Linked DNA regions of Homo sapiens: all the other regions are linked to region 1. Evidence: fine-mapped expression QTL. A gene starts in region 1. Each other region holds a variant in brackets. All regions are shown on one strand. Distances are from middle to middle.

Region 1 (4,132 bases):
GTCACTACAATACAAAAATTAGCCGAGCGCAGTGGCACACTCCCTGTTGTCCCAGCTACTTCGGGAGGCTTGAGGCAGGAGGATTGCTTGAGCATAGGTCGAGGCTACAGTGAGCCATGATTTCACCACTGCACTCCAGCCTGGCAGACAGAGAGGGACCTTGTCTCAAAAAAAAAAAAAAAAAAAGAGAAGAATTTGCAGTCCTTATTCAAGATAAGTCCTTATTCAAGATAAGACATTCAAGATGTCTTTTCAAAATATGTTCTGAATCAAAAAAAAATCCAAAATTATTGTTTTCGTATCGCATAAATGTGAAAGACTCATCACAAATGACACTGATATAGTAATGTTCTATATCTTCGTAGGGGGTTGGATTGTATAGGTGTATGCATTAGTCAAAATCAGTGAACGTACACTTAAAGGTTTATATATTCCATTTTACATCAAAATAAACCGTCAACAAACTCTAGTCAATGACATGCATGCCAAAGTATTTAAAGGAAAGTGTACAGGTATCTGCAATTTAAATGGATGGATAGCTATATGATAAAGCAAGTAATATTAAAATGTTAATGGTAGGATAGATCCTAAGTGATGTGCTCCTTATAAAATTCTTTATACTTGGCTGGATATTCGAAAATTTTCATAATAAAATATGAGGGAAAATGACATTGGTAAGACACTGTACTTGTAAATTGTAAACACTGATAACACACTACATTTCATAAAATTGTAAGATGTTAAGTTTGGTGGCAGCACCAGGTATTTGCTCCTTGATGCTTCCAAACTACGCTGCACACACCTCTTACAGAATGGTTGCCTCTCCCAGCATACTATAAGTTCCTGGTGGGCACAGATCTAACCTAATTTGTATTTATATTCCTATTGCTTTGCATCATGTTTGGGGAATAATATGTATTCAACAATAGTGGCATGATTGAATTAAAGTGGAATACTGCTAACGAACAAAGTATTATATTTCTAGCAGATTCACTATTCTTTTCTTACATATTCTAAAGGTTAATACGCTCAATATCCAAGAGAAATGTGTCCTTACTTCTCTCCAAGCATACGAAATTTCCAAAGTTTTTTTAAAAAAACTACTCATTAGATAATTTTATATTGTTACTTAAACCCAAGATCTGAAGGCCTCCTAACATTCAATAACTTTTTAGTAGTTTTTTTTTTTTCCTAGAAGAGCAAAGTCTCAGAACTCCACGGAAGCCTGGAAATCGTTTTATTCTAATTTTAGATAAGCTGTCTGAACTAAGAGATCTCTGAACTGGTCAAAAGCAGGAAAGTGGGGGTCTGGGAAGAAGACAAAAACAAACGCCACATAAAACGTCATGGAGCAAACTAATCAAGAACTTTAGCAAGAAACGGAGAGAAAGTCTTAAGGAGGACACCCAGAACATCTCCAGCTCCTCCTGGCCCGTCTCCTCAACTCCTCTTAATTCCAGCCAGTCAGAGCGCGGGGCCATCTGCCACTCCCAGGATGCCACGCGACGGGAGCGGACGCTGCGAGGATGCACCTCCACACGTCAACCTCCCACAAACAGCATGGCTTCGTGGCGTGAGCACCCGGTTCGGACCTGAACGCCTGGGTCCGAGTCCCACCTCCCCCTCCTGCCTGGTCTGCAGCCCTGCGCAAGTCCTCTTGCCCTCGCTGAGCCTCAGTTTCCTCATCTGTAAAATGTAATGATTCCCTATAATTGGCTACAGGGAGATGAGAAGTGTAAATGGTTTTAAGGAAGACACAGGCAACTCTCTAACTTGTTACGGCTCTGAACCTCGCGGTGCTCACTAACCAGCCTTGAGACCAATCTCTCAAAGTCACCCCGCTCCTCCCTTCCCGCCCGGCGCCTGTACTGAGGCCGCTCCCTCCTGTTGGCCCCCATGCGGAAGGCGCGCGGCGCCGTCTGCCGTACCTGCAGCCACCTGGTCAGCGGGGCCCTCTTGCTGACCCACGACGAAGTCGTGCACGAGGCCCCATAGGGCACCCATAGGCGCCGCCGCCTCCACAGCCGCGGCAGCGGCCATAACGCGAACTAGAGACCGTGGGAGGGGATATGGGCGGTGGCTCGAGACGGGCTCTCCGCGCATGCGCCTCCCGAGCCAATCTCCGGGGAAGCGCAAGGGGGCGGGGCGCCGGGGTCACGTGCCTGCCGGCTTCTGCCTAGGCAGTTCCAGGGAGGGGCGGGGCCTGAAATGGGGCGGTGGCACCGAGAGGGAAGGCGGCTGCTGGGCACGCAGCCGGAGGCGATTGAGGGCGAATAATTCCCAGCCCGGCTCCCCGGGAGACGGGCTGCGGGGCGGGCACCTGGCTGGGTGGGGAGAGGGGCGGTACGCACCACGGGGGAAGCCAATGAGAAAATCAGGCCCAGCCCTAGGGGGCGGTGCTGTCGGTCACATGCGCACCTGGGGCGGGTGGTGGCGGCGGCGCGGGCACCGCGAGCCGGCGGAAGGGAGAGGGGCCGGCCTGGGGCGGGGTTAGGCAGGTGAGTGACAGGCTCCAGGGGGCCGGCCCCTGCCTGGTGCCCCGAGCGAGCCGGGAGTAGCTGCGGCGGTGCCCGCCCCCTCTCTCCGCCCCTCCAGCGGAGCTGGTCTCCGGCCGGGCACCGTCGCGGGCCCCCCTGGCCCGGCCACCTGGGACCGTGCTGGGGAGTCTGCCACTTCCCTCTCTCCCCTGGCCCGCAAAGTTTTGGCGGAGCCATCGCTGGGGCTGAGCGCGCCCCCGGGGGGAGATCGGGGAGCGCCCGATGCCGGGCGGCCGGAGCCATTGACCCGGGACGCCGCCGTCCGCTGAGCAGCCGACCACCCCGCCGCCTCCGGTGCATGGGGACTGGCTGAGGAGCCAGCATGGGCAACTGCGTGGGGAGACAGCGCCGGGAGAGGCCGGCAGCCCCGGGACACCCCCGCAAGCGAGCAGGTAACGATGGGGAAGGGAGCAGGGCCTCGGGCATCCCGCCAGTTGTCCCCCTCCTCGCCCGAGTCCTGGGCTTACCGATGGACTCCCCACTGGTGCTGGCGCTTGGGTTTCCCCGATGGGCTGCTCCGCAGCCAGAGGGGGCCGCTCCCCAGCGCCGGGCGGCCGGGGGAGCTGAGTTGGGGCAACTGCGAGCACTGAGCCGGCTGCGCGACCAACTCTCTCCAACTGGGTAGCTCCTGGTGGGGGTGGGGGCAGGAAATGTTTGCAGACCGCAGCGGGGCCGACGGATCGGGAGGAGGCCGGGGGCGAGGGCGCCGCTGGCCTGGCAGCTCCGGCCGGGGTCGGACGCCGGCCCGTCGGGGCACGGCGCGGGCAGCCAGGCGTCCCCAGAACTCGGAGCGAGCGAGGCGAGAACAGTCGCTCCTTCCAAAGACTGTGTCATTATCGAGCTGCAGATCGTGTCTGCGGGAATCCGACTTGCAAAGCAGCGCAGGACTCTGGGAAAGAAATCTTTATTTTTCCCGCAGGGGTTTTTAGAGCCTCTCGGCCGTCTGGGAGTCTATAAAAGATGGGGTGCGGGGTGAGAGTCACCCTTGGGATTGTTGGGATCCTTCCCAGCTTTGGGAGTGAGATCGCTCGCTGGTGATCCTCCAGGCCCGCGCAACGCTTTCTCACTTTCATGGTACACCCCGCCTGCCCTGGCATTTCGCCCCGGGAAGAGGTCTGTCGGTCATTTTTCTGGGTCTTACACTCACTTCCTTCTTTGAGGGTGTTGCAAGGACCCGCTGGGAATAATATCGTAGACTTGAGAGCTCAAACTTGTCTGGATTCCAGATGGACCCATCTCCTACTCTGTGTCAAAGCCCAGATCCTGAGAGGTTGAACACCTTGTCCAAAGTCACACAGCTAGTTAGGAGCTCACCTGGGGCTAGAACTCAGCCTCCTCTCCCACCCCATTGCCACATATCCCCTTATGTAAGAGGAGCCACAGGCAGAGTTGTTAATGAAGTGGAAACTCTAGTTGGAGTTTCCTGTCTCCCTTGACACCGAAGGTGTGTTGCTTGGGTTGCGGAAACTGGGAAGGAAGATGGGGGAACCAGGGGAAGCAGGGAAGGATGTCTGCATGGTGGACAGGATGACTTGTGGAGGCAGAAATGTGTTTTTATGGGAAGGATGCAGTAAAACTTATTGAAATTCTCTTGT
Region 2 (4,132 bases), 22 kb after region 1:
GCCTCCAGCTCACCTGCAGCTTCCTTTCTCCAGGAAGGCCTGGCTTCTATGTGTGTCTTCCTTGCCCTCCAGCCCGTTTGGCTATTTCTGTTCATTTTCCCTCCACGGAGCATCTGGCAGAGCTGCCTGCTCTCTCCCACCCCAAGCCAGATTTTGTCTTCTCCTGCCTGCTCGTTTCCAATCTCAGACCCCTTGGAGCATTATTTTTTCTAAAGTGCAGCAGCTGTGCATCTCCCTGGTCTGCCCAGCTGTTCTTGTCGTTGACTGGAGAGTTTATGTCACTTGTGACAATAAATAGGAAATGAGAATGAGAGGGTTGCCAGACTGCCCTTCCAGCTGCCTGAATTCCTCTCGGGAAACAAGGAGAGAAATAAGCACAATAAGGCTAACACTTAGAAGTACTTCCCATGTTCACTTAATGTTTTCCAGATGTAGTACCAAACCTTTTCCATGTATTATCTCATTTAATCTTTGTAGTAACTCAATGAAGTAAGTTGTATGATCATCCTCTCACAGCAGGGAACACAGAGGCCCAGAGAGGTTGTGTAATTTGCCCAACATCATCAATGAGTAAGTAGCAGAACCAGACCAGAACCTGTATCAGTCTGACTCCCAGGGCACTCTCCTAATCACTAGAGGAGGAGACGGCCATGGGCCAGGCATCTCCGGAGCCCACTTGAACTTCAAGTTTTCGTTTTCTCTAGTTGCCTGTTGCAAATAATAACGTGCTCAAAGGAGACCTCATAGTGTCATTCTCAGAGCCATCCTTTGTTCTCCTTTCTCTGTATCCCAAACAGCAAAAAGAACTTTTGGATGGTAGAGGTTGTAGTATTTCTCTTTGCTTGGAGTCCCCCTACCAGCATCCCATTTTATAGTCTTCCGTAAAGCTTTAAGAACTTCACGACATTATCCTTGCAAATAAGGGGCTACAGAGGAAGAAATAATAGCCTAATCTTGACTTTTCTCTGACGATCTTTCCACTTAAATCATGTTCCCTTCTCTCCTGAGCATGCTTGAAATGCCCCAAGATGCCTGTTCTACACATTCTGTATTGACAGGGAACATTTCTGCTCTTTGTGGTAAACCTTTTGTGTGCTATTATTGTCCGTGAGTGGTGATTGTCAACTGGGGAGAGAGAGGGAGAATGAATCACAGTCTCTGGGGATTGGGGCAAGTGTGAAATTTGAAAAGCATATTCAGGATCATAATCTCATTTTAGCTTTGGAAAAATATATTGTTTTTTAAATGTAGACAATTAAAGAAAGTGGACTTGGACAAAATCTTGCCTGATATTGCAGGAATTCTCAAGTGAGGCATAGCAGTTTTAGGTGGGGGTGTATATGGGAAGCCTGTATGTTGATTAAAAGGGGGTATGTGCTTTAAGAGGCTAAGAAGCTGTCTCCCAACAAGAGACTGTATGTGTCCTGTCATTCTGTCTCCCACAGCCCTGCAGGTGTTTACTGGAGGTCTCTGAGGATGGTGCATACTATATGGGGCATCAAAAAAGACCCAAGGGCTTGGGGCTTGGGGCAAGTGCACTAAACACCACTGGTTTACTAACTGGGACCTTGTAGCTTAGTGGTTAAGAGCACAGGTTCGGCTCAGACCATGGCAGAGCTTAAATCCAAGCTTTACTGCTTTGTGGTAGTATTCCTTAACCTCTAAATGTCTCAGTTCCTTCATCTGTTACATAGATGGTGGTAGTACCTACCCTATCATGTAACTGTGGTGATTATGTGGGATAATGCCTGGCACCTGGCTGGTAGTCAGTGATGGTGGATGCTGTTTCTTACCCATCCTACCTGCTTTGTCTCAGTTGGATCAAACCCTCATGGGGCTCTGGGTGGCTGACCCAATGGCTTTGTCGAAATGAAAGTGTTATGTGGTCCTTGAGGTCCTGGTTCAAGGCTAATCTGAAGCATCTGTCTGCATAAAGCCCAGATGAGCATTGAGTTTCTCCATGCCCAGTGCCGTGCTTGATCCTGGGTGTGCAGCTGAGCAAAATAGATACGGTCCTTCCCTCCCAGGTCCCACAGAATAAC[A/G]GGGAAACACATGATACTCAGGTAATCAAAATGTAAGACATACTACAAAGGTAAGAATAAGGTACTGGGAGAGAATTATGGGGTAGGAGAAATGAATTATTTTGGAATGGAGGGTCAGGAAGCCTTCCCTGAAAAAGAGACACCTACGCTGACACCTGGAGACTGGGACTGAGGGAGCCGTGTTTGTCTCATGTGTCCCCACCCCTGGCCAGGGCTGCCTGCTGGTCCATGTACCACCTTTGGGTGAATTAGAGAAAGATGCCTCCTCTGGGCAGGGGCACAGCTGGAGAGAGAAAGGGAAATAAGCAAGTGGCCACCCCGGTTTCTGCCCTGTTGGGGTAAGGAGGTGTTTTCCCTTTCCAGGAGAAAGGAGAGAGAGGCCGTGTCCAGGACACTGTCCGGAGCTGCTAAACTGGCCAGCAAGTGCTCAGAGTCTGGTTTTCATGGGCTGCAGTTGGTGACTGTCTGCTGTGACCTTCTTCCCATAGCAGATATCTCTTCCACAATGTTCTATAAAGAGAGAGGACCACTAGGAGGGCAGGAGGGAGAGAGGAGGGAGATCTGCTGGGGAAGCCGGGCCACAGACTGAGGCCCTGGGCCTGCCAGCTCCCATCTCGCCTCCCCAGCACGAGTGCCTACTTCATGCTGAGTTCTGAGCTAACCTTGTTATTTAATCTGTAGTGTTTTGTTTTGTTTGCCTTCTCACCTGGGACCCGCCTTTCATTCCACAGGTAGGGGTGATGAACTCAATGCAAATGATGGTTGGTAAGGTGAGACTCTGCTGGGTGGGCAGCTCCCTGGCTGGTGGAGGGCACGCTTGAGGAAGTGGCATTTGAGTTCACTTCTAGGTGCTTGGATGCCTGGCACTCATGAGTGGAAGTTTCCAGGAGTTACTTTTCTGTTCCCCCTGAGGGAGATCTCCTTTCCCAAAGGAGAGTGGTCTGACGTGGGAACGGGCTGCCTCTGAGAGCCCAGCCTCCAGGGGTGGTGAGGGTCACTCCCAGGGATTCTTGCGTCAGCTGGGGCACACGCTGCAGAGCCTTCCACGACCTCTCTGACTCCAGTGGGATCTGGCTCTGCAAAAGTTAAGCCCTTCTGCCATAGCCTGGTAGAGGCTTTTTCTAAATCAAGCTGGGAGGGCCACCCTCAGGCAGGCAGGAGCAGCAGCCTCCAGACTAACCAGATCCTGGAGCTCTGTGTTCTGGGTCCCTGATCTCCCTGAAGCCCCAGCTACGGAGTTTGGTCCAGATTTCCCCCAGCAGCAGCTGGGCAGCAGTGTGTGCCTGGCCCCCTTTGGAGTGGGTCACACACCCACCTGGCCAGGCTCTGGCATGGAGGCTGGCACTAGAATGGGCTTCAGGGATAGCATGCACCTGTTTTGTGCTGCTGTTGTCAAGTAGCTGGCCTTGGGCTTCTTGGAACTACAGATGTTTGCGTCATTGGACTGATTGTCCTTTGACTTTTTCTTTGCCATACTGACTTTCTGTGGCCATATGGTTAGCTTTGGATACAGAGAGGTGTGAGGTGGTCCCACAGTGCCTGCCACAACATCAAGTTTCTATAGATGGGAGCCCTTCCGTAAACCTCAGAAGGTGGCAAGAGCATGTCTGACAGTGATTGGAATTGAGCTCTGCAAGACATAGACAAGATCACCTCTTCAACTCCAGAGTGTTGTGGCAGGGCACCAGAGCTGGAAAAGCCTGAAAGGTCATGTCCAGCTGCCCACGCAATGTGGGGTCGTTCCACTTAGCACCCTTGCCAGGCATTCAGCCAGACTTTCTTTGGGCGAGGCTAGCTTTTGAACGCACTGAATGCGTTGGCCTGTCTCTCTGTAGAGTGAGTGCCTGTGCCCTGTCTCATTGCCCACACCATGGCCTTGTGAGAGCAGCTCCCTCCGATCAGTGTGAACTTGGCTGAGCCCAAGTGTGCTTCCTTTGTGTCTCTCACTCACTGGTTCTGCCTGAGAAGTTTGTTTCCTTTAGGTAAAGTTTTCCTGTTATAGCTCTTGGGGTTTGAATTGGGTGACTTGTCTTACAGAGTGGTGAAGATCGGAGACAGGGTGTGTAACTTGCCCAGGTCATCTCAAATTT
Region 3 (4,132 bases), 32 kb after region 1:
CCCACCTCCCTCCTGGACGGGGCGGCTGGCCGGGCAGAGGGGCTCCTCACTTCCCAGTAGGGGCGGCCGGGCAGAGGCGCCCCTCACCTCCCGGACGGGGCGGCTGGCCGGGCAGGGGGCTGACCCCCAACCTCCCTCCCGGACGGGGCGGCTCGCCTGGCGGGGGGCTGACCCCCCCACCTCCCTCCCGGACAGGGCGGCTGGCCGGGCGGGGGGCTGACTCCCCCACCTCCCTCCCGGACGGGGCGGCTGGCCGGGCAGAGGGGCTCCTCACTTCCCAGTAGGGGCGGCCGGGCAGAGGTGCCCCTCACCTCCCGGACGGGGCGGCTGGCCGGGCAGGGGGCTGACCCCCAACCTCCCTCCCGGACGGGGCGGCTCGCCTGGCGGGGGGCTCACCCCCCCACCTCCCTCCCGAACGGGGCGGCTGGCCGGGCGGGGGGCTGAACCCCCACCTCCCTCCCGGACGGGGCGGCTGGCCGGGCGGGGGGCTGACCCCCCCCACCTCCCTCCCGGACGGGGCGGCTGGCCGGGCGGGGGGCTGACCCCCCCCACCTCCCTCCCGGACGGGGCGGCTGGCCGGGCGGGGGGCTGACTCCCCCACCTCCCTCCCGGACGGGGCGGCTGGCCGGGCAGAGGGGCTCCTCACTTCCCAGTAGGGGCGGCCGGGCAGAGGCGCCCCTCACCTCCCGGATGGGGCGGCTGGCCGGGTGGGGGGCTGACCCCCCACCTCCCTCCTGGATGGGGCGGCTGGCCTGGCGGGGGCTGACCCCCACCTCCCTCCCGGACAGGGTGGCTGCCGGGCGGAGACGCTCCTCACTTCCCAGACGGGGTGGCAGCCGGGCGGAGGGTCTCCTCACTTCTCAGACAGGGTGGCCAGGCAGAGACGCTCCTCACCTCCCAGACAGGGTCGCGGCCGGCCGAGGCACTCCTCACATCCCAGACGGGGCAGCGGGGCAGAGGCGCTCCCCACATCTCAGACGATGGGCGGCCGGGCAGAGACGCTCCTCACTTCCTAGATGGGATGGCGGCCGGGAAGAGGCGCTCCTCACTTCCTAGGTGGGATGGCGGCCGGGCAGAGACGCTCCTCACTTTCCAGACTGGGCAGCCAGGCAAAGGGGCTCCTCACATCCCAGATGATGGGCGGCCAGGCAGAGACGCTCCTCACTTCCCAGACGGGGTAGCGGCTGGGCAGAGGCTGCAATCTCGGCACTTTGGGGGGCCAAGGCAGGCGGCTGGGAGGTGGAGGTTGTAGCGAGCCGAGATCACGCCGCTGCACTCCAGCCTGGGCACCATTGAGCACTGAGTTAACGAGACTCCGTCTGCAATCCCGGCACCTCGGGAGGCCGAGGCTGGCGGATCACTCGCGGTTAGGAGCTGGAGACCAGCCCGGCCATCACAGCGAAACCCCGTCTCCACCAAAAAAAAAACGAAAACCAGTCAGGCGTGCAGGCACTCGGCAGGCTGAGGCAGGAGAATCAGGCAGGGAGGTTGCAGTGAGCCGAGATGGCAGCAGCACAGTCCAGCTTCGGCTCGGCATGAGAGGGAGACCGTGGAAAGAGAGGGAGAGGGAGACCGTGGGGAGAGGGAGACCGTGGGGAGAGGGAGAGGGACTGGGACTGATCTGCCCTTCTTTGGCTTCATTCTGACCACCTCCTGCCTCGTGTGATCTACCTGGCAGCACTGCTTGCAGCTCCACAAACCTGAGCCCAGAGTAGGCTCACACTGCCTCCTCTGTCTGGCGAGCCCAGCCCCCTTGCCCTTTTGCCTGGCTAACTCCAGCTTGTTCTTTGGTACTTGGAGCAAACTTTAAGACCTTCCGCAGAGGGGGTGAGACCACATTCACGTGTCCCCCTGATTCCTGTGCATATCACTCCCCTTGCATGTGTGCATTAGTTTCTAACAATCTCCTGACATGTCTGTCTCCCTCACTAGCTCTGACCTTGAGAGCCTTAGTGACTTTGTGTCCGTGTTCCCCAGCACGGGGCCTGGTGCATACTAGAAGCTCAATACATGTTTC[T/TTGAA]TGAATGAATGAATGAATGAATGAATGGATGGATGAATCGATGAATGAATGAAGAATGATGCAAGCTCTTTATTATAAGAAATGCATCCTGAGCTGTGCATGGTGGCTTACACCTTTAATCCCAGTGACTCAGGAGGCTGAGGCAGGGGGAATGCTGGAGCCCAGGAGTTTGAGGCTGCAGTGAGTTACAGTCGCGCCACTGCACTCCAGCCTGGGCTACAGAGTGAGACCCCATCTCAAAAAAATTTTTACAAAAGCATACTTTATAGTGCTCAGCACATATTTGCTCAATAAATATTTATTAGATGATTCTGTGTGAAGTAAAAACAGGATTTTTTTGAAGTGTTATATTTATTCTATATTTTCTTTATGTCCTGAGTCGATTTCTAAGGATAGAACCTAGGGAAGAGGGGGCACAGGTAAATCCGGCAAGCAGCAGGGGTTGAGAACCACTGGTCCAGCAGCTGGTTTCAGATTAAAATAAAAACAGGATCGTGGACATCATAATGGTAGAAGCTTGTACATGCCATATGATCTCAGCAATATGAATGCTAATTGAGAGGAACAAAAGAAAATGTCTCAACATATTATTGCTGGTTATTTGGGGGTGATAGGATATAGGTTACTTATGTTTTTCCTTTTTATGTTTTTATTATATAATTTTTATTTTAAAAATTTTTTAAATTTTTAAATTTTTTACTTTTTTGAGACGGAGTCTGGCTCTGTTGCCCAGGCTGGAGTGCAGTGGCGCGATCTCGGCTCATTAAAAGCTCTGCCTCCTGGGTTCATGCCATTCTCCTGCCTCAGCCTCCGGAGTAGCTGGGACTACAGGTGCCCGCCACCACGCCCAACTAATTTTTTGTACTTTTAGTAGAGACGGGGTTTCACCTTGTTAGCCAGGATGGTCTCCATCTCCTGACCTCGTGATCCGCCCTCCTTGGCCTCCCAAAGTGCTGGGATTACAGGCATGAGCCACTGCGCCCAGCCTATTTTTTTTAAATTTAACATATGCCATCTTTTTTTTTTTTTTTGAGATGGAGTCTTGCCGTCACCCAGTCTGGAGTGCAGTGGCACAATCTCGGCTTGCTGCAACCTCCACCTCTTGGGCTCAAGTGATCCTCCTGCCTCAGCCTCCTGAGCAGCTGGGATTACAGGCGTGCACCACCACGCCTGGCTAATTTTTGTATTTTCGTAGAGGTGAGGTTTCCGCCCAGCTAATTTTTGTACTTTATGTAGAGACGAGGTTTCACCATGTTGGCCAGGCAGGTCTCAAACTCCTGACCTCAAGTGATCTGCCTGCCTCAGCCTCTCAAAGTGCTGGAATTCCAAGCGTGAGTCACCAAGCCCGGCCGACATATGTCATCTTTTAAATGTAAAAAATAAGAAAAGTGGTTGGACCAGAGACTCCTGACTGTGCTTGGGATCACTGGGTCATGGAGCCAGTCCCTGAGCTTCAGCCTTTGGTTAGTCCCCCAGGGGCGATTCTAGGTATCGGGTCCATTCCTGACCCTCTGGCCCTTTCTGAGCACCAGCATCCTGGTGCTCCGAGAAACTGTCTCGTGCCCTTGGAAACTGTGATAAACAGTTCCTAGGCCCACAACAGTCTCCCCTGTGGTTTCCAGGTCCCCAGGTGAGGGCGGAGCATGAGGAATGTGACAGGCCATGGTGTAATGGGATTTTGCTAAGAATTTACCACCAGGAGGTAGTCTCCAAATGGGTCCCAGAATAGAAAAACTGGCCTGTGGTGTGATGAGGAGTGGGACCACAGACCTGGGGGCCAAGACCAGCAGGAAGACTCAGCAACAAGGCATTGTGATCCTGGGGGCTGGGTAGTTGGCCATCCTGGCAGGCAGTTGGAGGTGGGCAGGGACAGCCAGGTGGGACACTGAGGGTTAGAAAGGTGAGAGAGTCAAGGAGTAGATAGTGGGGGGCTGACTGGGCCGGGAGAGCAGCCAGTGGAGGGAGCACCTTGGGTCAAGGCGCTCTCAGTCTGCCATCTCTTGGCCCTGGAGCAAACCAAGCAGTTGGAGTTGTCTGCAGGGAGATTTGTAAGTTCACTTGTTTGCTGTTTCATGCCATCTTCCTCCCAAAGCCTTTCCTGAGTCTCTTCCTGTA

Direction of the effects. Alleles are on the strand shown, and positions count from the first base shown. SD is a standard deviation of normalised expression in the study named.
As copies of A replace G in region 2, the expression in tibial nerve of the gene that starts at base 2,078 in region 1 goes up (small effect, 0.14 SD a copy in GTEx).
In carriers of allele TTGAA in region 3, the expression in iPS cells of the gene that starts at base 2,078 in region 1 tends to be lower than with T alone (small effect, 0.39 SD a copy in HipSci).

Evidence for each region. PIP is the estimated chance that this variant, and not a neighbour inherited with it, causes the effect. A credible set is the group of variants that fine-mapping cannot tell apart.
Region 2: its variant is the best candidate, but not a certain one, in a credible set for the expression of MMS19 in tibial nerve (GTEx, PIP 0.75).
Region 3: its variant is the best candidate, but not a certain one, in a credible set for the expression of MMS19 in iPS cells (HipSci, PIP 0.76).

Annotation. Positions count from the first base shown.
Region 1 is chr10:97,496,345-97,500,476 of GRCh38, forward strand. MMS19 (MMS19 cytosolic iron-sulfur assembly component) reads right to left here and starts at 2,078. Exons shown (of 31, transcript NM_022362.5): 1 at 1,929-2,078. The coding sequence starts at 2,040. It overlaps UBTD1 (ubiquitin domain containing 1), which reads left to right and starts at 2,580. Exons shown (of 3, transcript NM_024954.5): 1 at 2,580-2,929. The coding sequence starts at 2,860. RefSeq lists enhancers at 1,203-1,733, 1,410-1,459, 1,820-1,989 and silencers at 2,230-2,989, 3,000-3,199.
Region 2 is chr10:97,518,434-97,522,565 of GRCh38, forward strand. The region is part of intron 1 of UBTD1 (ubiquitin domain containing 1); the gene reads left to right. Among named protein-coding and RNA genes, the nearest start is that of UBTD1, 22 kb to the left of the region's middle. The variant A/G (reference allele first, on the strand shown) is at 2,043.
Region 3 is chr10:97,528,183-97,532,314 of GRCh38, forward strand. The region is part of intron 1 of UBTD1 (ubiquitin domain containing 1); the gene reads left to right. Among named protein-coding and RNA genes, the nearest start is that of UBTD1, 31 kb to the left of the region's middle. The variant T/TTGAA (reference allele first, on the strand shown) is at 2,018.